Regions from separate parts of the Homo sapiens genome. Here regions 2 and 3 are each linked to region 1. Evidence: fine-mapped expression QTL. A gene starts in region 1. Each other region holds a variant in brackets. All regions are shown on one strand. Distances are from middle to middle.

Region 1 (2,760 bases):
GGTGGCAGGTGCCTGTAGTCCCAGCTACTAGGGAGGCTGAGGCAGGGGAATGGCGTGAACCCGGGAGGCGGAGCTTGCAGTGAGCTGAGATGGTGCCACTGCACTCCAGCCTGGGCGACAGAGCAAGACTCCATCTCAAAAAAAAAAAAAAGTGCAAAATGATCACGAAGGCCAAGCTGGGCCTTGGTGTCTGCGAATTCCCTGCAGTAGGTCCCTCCTGCTGCCCCGTCCAGGCGCCCACAGGATGCTCCACATGACTCTTTACCTTTATGATTTTCTTACCTCCAGGAAAGAACAGGGTCAGCTCGTCCACCCAGAGCTGGAGGGACTGTTGGGGGACCACGCCACTTCCCCACGGTATCCGCATTATTATGGCGTGGCCCAGGCTTTGGCCTGGGGCCATGAACAGACTTTCAGCTTCTAGAAGCAAGTGGTCACAGGGCCTCCGTGACCCTCGGAGACAGCGCCACAGCGTCGGTTGCCTACTCCTTGCTGGACAAGGCTGGCTCTGCTTGGGAATGCAGAAACCCTGAGTCCTTGTCCTGGGCCCCACAGTGTCTGAGCATCGAAGGTCCCTGCTCTGGGACGAGTCACCCCACAGACACCCCACATTCGGGAATCAAGTCTTGAGGAATCAGAAGCAGAGATTCACACTGTGGCAAAGAGGGGAGCGGAGGTATCCCCGTTTTCCTTTGCAGAGAGCTACACCAACTGCCCTCTTCGTCTTTACAACCCTACTTGGGGTCCCTTTCCCTCCTCGCTTGTGCCTGTGAGTTCCAAGAGGTGGAACTGGGGTGAGCAGAGCCCCCAGGTCTCCAGGAGCAGCTCCACCTCCTCACAGGTTACAGTCGCTTCCTCCTACCGAGGTTCTGCCTTCAACCCACTGCCCATGCCAGCTCCCTCAGGCCAGTCTCCCAGACTGTCCCTGGCTCCCTGCACCCTGGCTCCAGCTCCCTGCCCTGGAAAGAAGAAGTCCACCATCTGGTGAGGGTCTGCCACGCATCTGGGGTCTGCCATGCGTCTGCACTGAGGTTCTGCCACGAGTCTGCACTGAGGTTCTGCCATGCGTCTGGAGTCTGCCACGCGTCTGGGGTCTGCCACGCGTCTGGAGTCTGCCATGGGTCTGGGGTCTGCCATGTGTCTGGGATCTGCCGTGCGTCTGGGGTCTGCCACGCATCTGCACTGAGGTTCTGCCACGCGTCTGGGGTCTGCCACGCGTCTGGGGTCTGCCACGCGTCTGGGGTCTGCCACGCGCCTGCACTGAGCAGATATTCCAAGCACACCACCCCTTTCCAAAAGACGGCATACAGTGCATTTCTGTTCCTGCCCCTCACCCACATGGTTCCCCGCTTCCCAATTCCTTGGGGTCTGCTTAAGTCTCACTCTCTTTCCCCCATTCATACAGCCCCAAGGTCGCTCCCTCTGGGGCCCTTTCTTCCCCATTCTTCCCAGCAGCCCAAAGCTCTGGTGGGACAGGGGCAGCCCCTGGGGAGGGAGGAGAGGACCCAGGAACCCGGCTAGGAGGGTGGCCCACCCATTTCCAGTGTGACCTGTTCCCATTCCCCCATGTCTCCTCCCATCCCTCCCGCCACTCAGCTCAGGCTGATGAGAAGCAGAGCAACGGGTGTATCGGTGTTTTCTTTCCTGGTGGGGTAGTGGGGTGGGGCTGAGGAGAGAAAAGGGTGATTAGCGTGGGGCCCCGCCCTCTTTTGTCCTCTTCCCAGGTTCCCTGGCCCCTTCGGAGAAACGCACTTGGTTCGGGCCAGCCGCCTGAGGGGACGGGCTCACGTCTGCTCCTCACACTGCAGCTGCTGGGCCGTGGAGCTTCCCCAGGGAGCCAGGGGGACTTTTGCCGCAGCCATGAAGGGGGCACGCTGGAGGAGGGTCCCCTGGGTGTCCCTGAGCTGCCTGTGTCTCTGCCTCCTTCCGCATGTGGTCCCAGGTAAGTGATGGAGACAGCAGATGAGGCTGGCTGCGGGGAGCACTTGGGGGAGGTGGGAGCTGTCAGAGAAAGAGGTCCGGGGAGACAGAGAGAGAGAGAGAGAGAATAGGGGAAAGGGAGACAGCGAAGAGGAAGAGAAGGGAGAGAAAAAGAGGGAGAGGGAAAGGAGAAAGAGATGAATGGGACAACATGGGGGGAAGGTGGAGAGAGACCCAGAGAGGGAAAGAAGAGGAAGAGAAGAGGGAGAGAGAAAGAAGAGTGGAGGCCGTGCGCGGTGGCTCATGCCTGTAATCCCAGCACTTTCGGAGGCCAAGGCAGGAGATCACCTGAGGTCAGGAGTTCGAGACCAGCCTGGCCGACATGGTGAAACCCCGTCTCTACTAAATATACAAAAATTAGCCGGTCGTGGTGGGCCCCACCTGTAATTCCAGCTACTCAGGAGTCTGAGGCAGGAGAATCACTTGAACCTGGGAGGTGGAGGTTGCAGTGAGCCAAGATCGCGCCACTGCACTCCAGCCTGGGAGAGAGAGCGAGACTCTGTCTCAAAATAAATAAATAAATAAATAAATAAATAAATAAATAAATAAATATAAAATAAAATAAAAAATAAGAAGAGGAGAAAAGTGGGGAAGAGGAGGCATGAACTGGCAGATACGGGACAAGATCTGAGGGGAAAGACAGAGGGAGAATGCTCGAAAGAGAGAGAAAAGAGAACAGAGGGCCAGAGAGCAGCCCGGCGATGTCTGGAAGGATCCATGGTGAGAGCCCAGGCTTACTCGCAGAGAGAAAGACAGGCAGAGCCAGAGCAAGAGGAACAG
Region 2 (2,760 bases), 220 kb before region 1:
GTGTTCCAGAGCTTAGAGGAAAGACTTTCAGTTTTTCCTCTTCAGTATGAGACTAGCTGTGGGTCTGTTGTGTATGGCTTTTATTGTGTTGTGGTATGTTCCTCCTATACACAGTTTTTTGAGGGTTTTTATCATGAAGGGATGTTGAACTTTATCAAATACTTTTTCGGCATCAATTAAAATCATCATATGATTTCTGTCCTTCATTCTGTTGATATGATGTATCACATTGATTGATTTGCATATGTGGAACCTACCTTGCATCCCTGGTATCAATCCCACTTGGTCGTGATGAATGATATTATTAATATGTTGCTGAATTAGGTTTGCTAGTATTTTGTTGTGGATTTTTGCATAAATGTTCATCAAAGATATTGGCCTGAAGTTTTTTTTCTTTTGTTCTTTTTTAAAATGTGCCTTTGTCTGGTTTGGTATCAAGGTAATATTAACCTTGTAGGATGAGTTTGGAAGTATCCCCTCCTCCTCTATTTTTTGGAATAGTTTGAACAGGATTGGTATTAGTTATTTAAATATTTGGTAAAATTCAGCAGTGAAGCCTTCAGGTCCTGGGCTTTTCTTTACTGGGAGACTTTTGATTATGGCTTTGATTTCATTATTAGTTATTGGTCTGTTCAGGTTTTGGATTTCTTCGTGGTTCAATCACAGTAGGTTGAATATGTCTAGGAATTTATCCACTTCTAGGTTTTCCAATTTATTAGCAACATATAGTTTTCATAGAAGTCTCTAGTGAGCCTTTGAATCTCTGCAGTATCCGTTGTAATGCCTCCTTTTACATTTCTGATTTTATCTATTTGAGTCTTTTTTCTTTTTTTCTTAGTCTGGCTAAAGGTTTGTCAATTTTGTTTATCTTTTCAAAAAACAAACTTTTTTGTTTTTTTGATTTTTTTTTATTTCAATTTCATTTATTTCTGCTCTGATCTTTATTATTTGTTTTCTTCTGATTTTGGGTTTGACTTGCTCTTGCTTTTCTCGTTCTTTCTTTTCTTTTCTTTTTTTTTTTTTTTTGAGACTGATTCTCACTCTGTCACCCAGGCTGGAGTGCAGTGGTGCCATCTCCGCTCACTGCAACCTCTGCCTCCTGGGTTCGAGCAATTCTCCTGCCTCAGCCTCCTGAGTAGCTGGGATTACAGGTGCCTGGCACCACACCCAGCTAATTTTTTGTATTTTTGGTAGAGACAGGGTTTCAATATGTTGGCCAGGCTGGTCTTGAACTCCTGACCTCAAGCAATCCACCC[G/A]TCTCAGCCTCCCAAAGTGCTGGGATTACAGGCATGAGCCACCGCGCCTGGCTCGCTCTTCTAGTTCTTTAAGATGCATTGTTAGGTGGTTTATTTGAAGTTTTTCTACTTTCTTTCTTTCTTTTTTTTTTTTTTGAGACAGCGTCTCAATCTGTTGCCCAGGATGGAGTGCAGTGGTACAATCTTGGCTCACTGCAACCTCTGCCTCCTAGGTTCAAGAGATTCTCATGTCTCGGCCTCCCGAGTAGCTGGGATTAGAGGCGTGTGCCACCCCGCCCTGCTAATTTTTGTATTTTTATTTATGTATTTATTTAGGAGACAGAGTCTTGCTCTGTCACCCAGGCTGGAGTGCAATGGCACAATCTCAGCTCACTGCAACCTCTGCCTCCTGGGTTCAAGCGATTCTCCCACCTCAGCCCCCCGACTAGCTGGGACTACAGGCACCCGCCACCACGCCCAGCTAATTTTTGTATTTTTAGTAGAGACAGGGTTTCACCATATTGACCAGGCTGGTCGCTGGTCTTGAACTCCTGACCTTGTGATCCGCCCACCTCAGCCTCCCAAAGTGCTGGGATTACAGGCGTGAGCCACCGTGCCTGGCCTGTAATCTTTAAAGCTCAATAGAAATGTAAGATCTTGCTATTGTTATGCGATTATAAAATCTTCCATTCCTTGCTTTTTCCTTGGTTGCTGGCCTAGAAACTAAATCAATTCTGTTCTCTTTTTATTTTTTAAAAGTAATCTCGAACATGTGAAATTGCTGATATTTTAATGTATTGCTGATGTTTCATCTATTCCAATGGTAGCTTCCTCTGGTTTCTTCTAATAGTTAAAACTCTATCATGCCTATAATCCCAGCACTTTGGGAGGTCAAGGCGGGCAGATCACCTGAGGTCAGAAGTTTGAGACCAGCCTGGCCAACATGGCAAAACCCTGTCTCCACTTAAAAGATGAAAATTGGCAGGAGAATCGCTTGAACCCGGGAGACCTTGGTTGCAGTGAACCAAGATTACACCACTGTACTCCAGTCTGGGCAACAAAGCGAGACTCAGAAAAAAAAAAAAATATATATATATATATATATATATATATGTATGTATATATACACACACATATCAAAGCAATATATTTGTATAGTGAAACCTCAGACAGTGCCACTAAGTGAATGATAATATAAAACTCTTATTTCTTATTTTGCTATGATGTTAGGTTCTCAACAATCATTCCGCCTGCTGGTTTACCTTGGTCTTTTTTCCCATTGAGATGGGTTTCCCTTCAATGTCTGGTGATTCTTCATTGTTCACATTTAATAGTGACACGTGAAGAAGGAGAATGAGTCTGTGTTATCATTAGTGAAAGGCTCGTCTAGATGGTGATTCTTCACTGTTCACATTTAATAGTGACACGTGAAGAAGGAGAATGAGTCTGTGTTATCATTAGTGAAAGGCTTGTCTAGATGGTGATTCTTCATTGTTCACATTTAATAGTAACACATGAAGGAGAA
Region 3 (2,760 bases), 200 kb after region 1:
GCAAGCCCCAGGATCTGCTGGCTATCGGCCTGCGTCTTTAAGAGGGGATGTGTGGGGCCAGCGTCCACCTTCCAGGGTGAGCCAAGAAGGCAGACCAGCGTCCAGGACTCGCAGAGCTTTCTGAACCTCTGTCGCCTTCCCCGGGTACTTTTCTCATCCAACACATAGTTCCCCATGGAAGTAAAAACCCTTAAAAGACGAGAAAGGCCTATGATTGTGCCTTTCGGGGTAGCTGGGTGGATTGAGGCGGGGGAACCTCCAGAGACAGGGTGGGCAGTGCTGCTGCCAAAGCGAGGGAGCCGGCAGAGTCCTTGGGGCTCCGGCAAGGGAAAGACGGCACCCCCCACCCTGCCGAGGCCCCTCCTGAATGAGGGCCGAGAACTGCAGGGTTGGAGCCTGGGAACCATGGAAACCGTGGCCAGGCATTTTCCACAGGACACCGGGAGCCCCTGAGGCAACACCTAGCTTTTCAGAGAGCGGCTGCCGGCACTTCTGCCCAGAGCAGAGGCCTGTTCCCTTGACTGGCCCTGAGGTGGGAGGAATGGGAGTCCCCGAGGGAGGCTACGGTAGGATATCTTCCCTAGAGACAGGGTCTTGCTCTGTTGCCCAGGCAGGTCTTGAATTCCTGGGCTCAAGCGATCCTCCTGCCTCAGCCTCTTGAGTAGTTTACTACAAGATCTTTTCTGGCCTGAGAAAGGGGGCCTCCCCTGTCTAGAGGGAGATCGGGCTCTCCCTGTGAGTGGGCCAAGGAGCCTCTTGGAGAGGGTTTCTAGATTTAGCAAATAAAAATACAGGGTACTCGGTTAAATTTGAACTTGCATTTCAGATAAACGACGAATAACTTTTTAGCATGAGTATTTCTCATGCAATATTGGCTACATACTTACACTTAAAAAAATTGTTACCTGAAATTCAAATGTAACTGGATGCCCTGTGTTTTATCTGGTAATCCCAGTCTTGGAAGGAAAAGGATCAAATACGAACCCCCTAATTCTCTGAGCCTTCTTGGTCCAGCCCACACAGCTGGAAGCCCAAAGGTGGCGCTCTTGGAGTCTGACCTCCCCTGGCACAGGGTTTGAGATGGTCTTTACCCAGCTCCACTGGCCCAAAAGTAGCCCATAGACCCAAAAGGGGCCTAGCACCTCTCCCCAGGGCATCAGGATGGGGCCCCAGGTCCCCAACTGGTTGTCCTGTGGACCTCAGGGAATGACGAGGCAGGAGTCAAGAGCCTCGGTTGCAGCTCCCGCTGTGCTGCCCACGACTGGCTCCGGGGTCAGATGATCTGCTGGTTCAAATCCTGACTCAGCCTCCTACTAGCCAGGCCAGTCTCTAGACCCCTCTCAGCCTCCATGTCCTCACCTGA[G/A]AAAACAGGGTCACAATACCTGCCTTGCCAACGTGGTGAGGACCAGCGGAGAAGATGAAAGGGCTTATATTCCAAAGCCCACAAGGTAAGCATCCCTCCACATGGAGTCCTCTCCCAGGCCCCTGGAAAGCACGCATAGTCGATTTGACTATAGTGAGGAGTGCGGGCTGCACCCCCAGGCAGTATAGGCGAGTCCCGGGCACCCAGTCTCATCCCTGGTCCGGTGCGGCCCAGCTGCACACACAAATCTCACTTTTGCAGGAACTGTTCATCTGCCTTCATAATACAGTTTCTTCTCCCCACTTCAAGCCTGAGATCATTTCTCTGAGCCTTCTTGGTCCAGCCCACACAGCTGGAAGCCCAGAGTGGTGCCCTTGGAGCCCGACTTCCCCTGGCACATTTTCTGGCTTATCCAGGAGCCCCGGGGTGTCCTTTCTGCTGTGAAACCTCCTCATGCTCCCCAAGCCCACAGCCTCTCGGGTCCAAGGGGGTCTTCTCGAATACAGCAAATCCCGGCCCAGCCCCTCAGTAGCTCTGGAACACTGCGGCTCTCCTGGTACAATCTTCAAATCTGGTGGAGAGGAAAGCGTGTGGACTTGGGACCCTGAGTTGGAGAATCTGCTCTCTGCCCTGTGACCCTGGCCAAGTCTCTCAGCTCCAAGCCTGCATTTCCGCACCTGTAAGGTGGAGCTAACGGGACACGTGCAGCGCAGACCAGGCCACGGTGAGCACAGGCAGGAGGCCACGGGGTGCAGTGCTCAGGCCTGTGAGGAGTCAGATCCTGGCTCCGAGGAGTTGTTACTGGATGCCCAGAAGCACAGTGGCCTCATCCTCAAAGCAGTGGAGGTGGGGGGTGGTAAGAACAGGGCCGATCTTGCAGGGCCGTTGTGAGGATTAAAAATACAATGTATGATAATGATGCGTCAAAGTAGGTTCCTCAGTCCTAACAAATGTGCCACTCTGGTGGGGGACGCTGATGATGGGGGAGGCTGTGAGTGGTGGGGATGGGAACTCCAGACTCTCCACTGCAGCTTTTTTTTTTTGAAACATAGTTTCACTCCTGTTGCCCAGGCCAGAGCGCCACGGTGCGATCTCAGCTCACTGCAAACTCCACCTCCCAGGTTCAAGCAATTCTCCTGCCTCAGCCTCCCGAGTAGCTGGGATTACAGGCACCTGCTACCACCCCGGCTAATTTTGTATTTTTAGTAGAGACGGGGTTTCTCCATGTTGGTCAGGCTGGTCTCGAACTCCCGACCTCAGGTGATCCACCCATCTCAGCCTCCCAAAATGCTGGGATTACAGGTGTGAGCCACCACACTCGGCCTCTCCACTCGAGGTTTAGAGCGAGCATAGAACTGCTCTAAAAAAAAAAAATAATAAATCCTTTTCTATTTTTT

What was found. PIP is the estimated chance that this variant, and not a neighbour inherited with it, causes the effect.
Region 2: its variant is the best candidate, but not a certain one, in a credible set for the expression of MUC4 in ovary (GTEx, PIP 0.76).
Region 3: its variant is the best candidate, but not a certain one, in a credible set for the expression of MUC4 in sun-exposed skin (GTEx, PIP 0.79).

The regions. Positions count from the first base shown.
Region 1 is chr3:195,810,918-195,813,677 of GRCh38, reverse strand. It overlaps MUC4 (mucin 4, cell surface associated), which reads left to right and starts at 1,749. Exons shown (of 25, transcript NM_018406.7): 1 at 1,749-1,942. The coding sequence starts at 1,861.
Region 2 is chr3:196,027,995-196,030,754 of GRCh38, reverse strand. All of the region lies in intron 1 of LOC124909478 (a long non-coding RNA gene), which reads left to right. Among named protein-coding and RNA genes, the nearest start is that of TFRC, 53 kb to the left of the region's middle. The variant G/A (reference allele first, on the strand shown) is at 1,257.
Region 3 is chr3:195,615,624-195,618,383 of GRCh38, reverse strand. No RefSeq gene overlaps it. Among named protein-coding and RNA genes, the nearest start is that of APOD, 33 kb to the right of the region's middle. The variant G/A (reference allele first, on the strand shown) is at 1,364.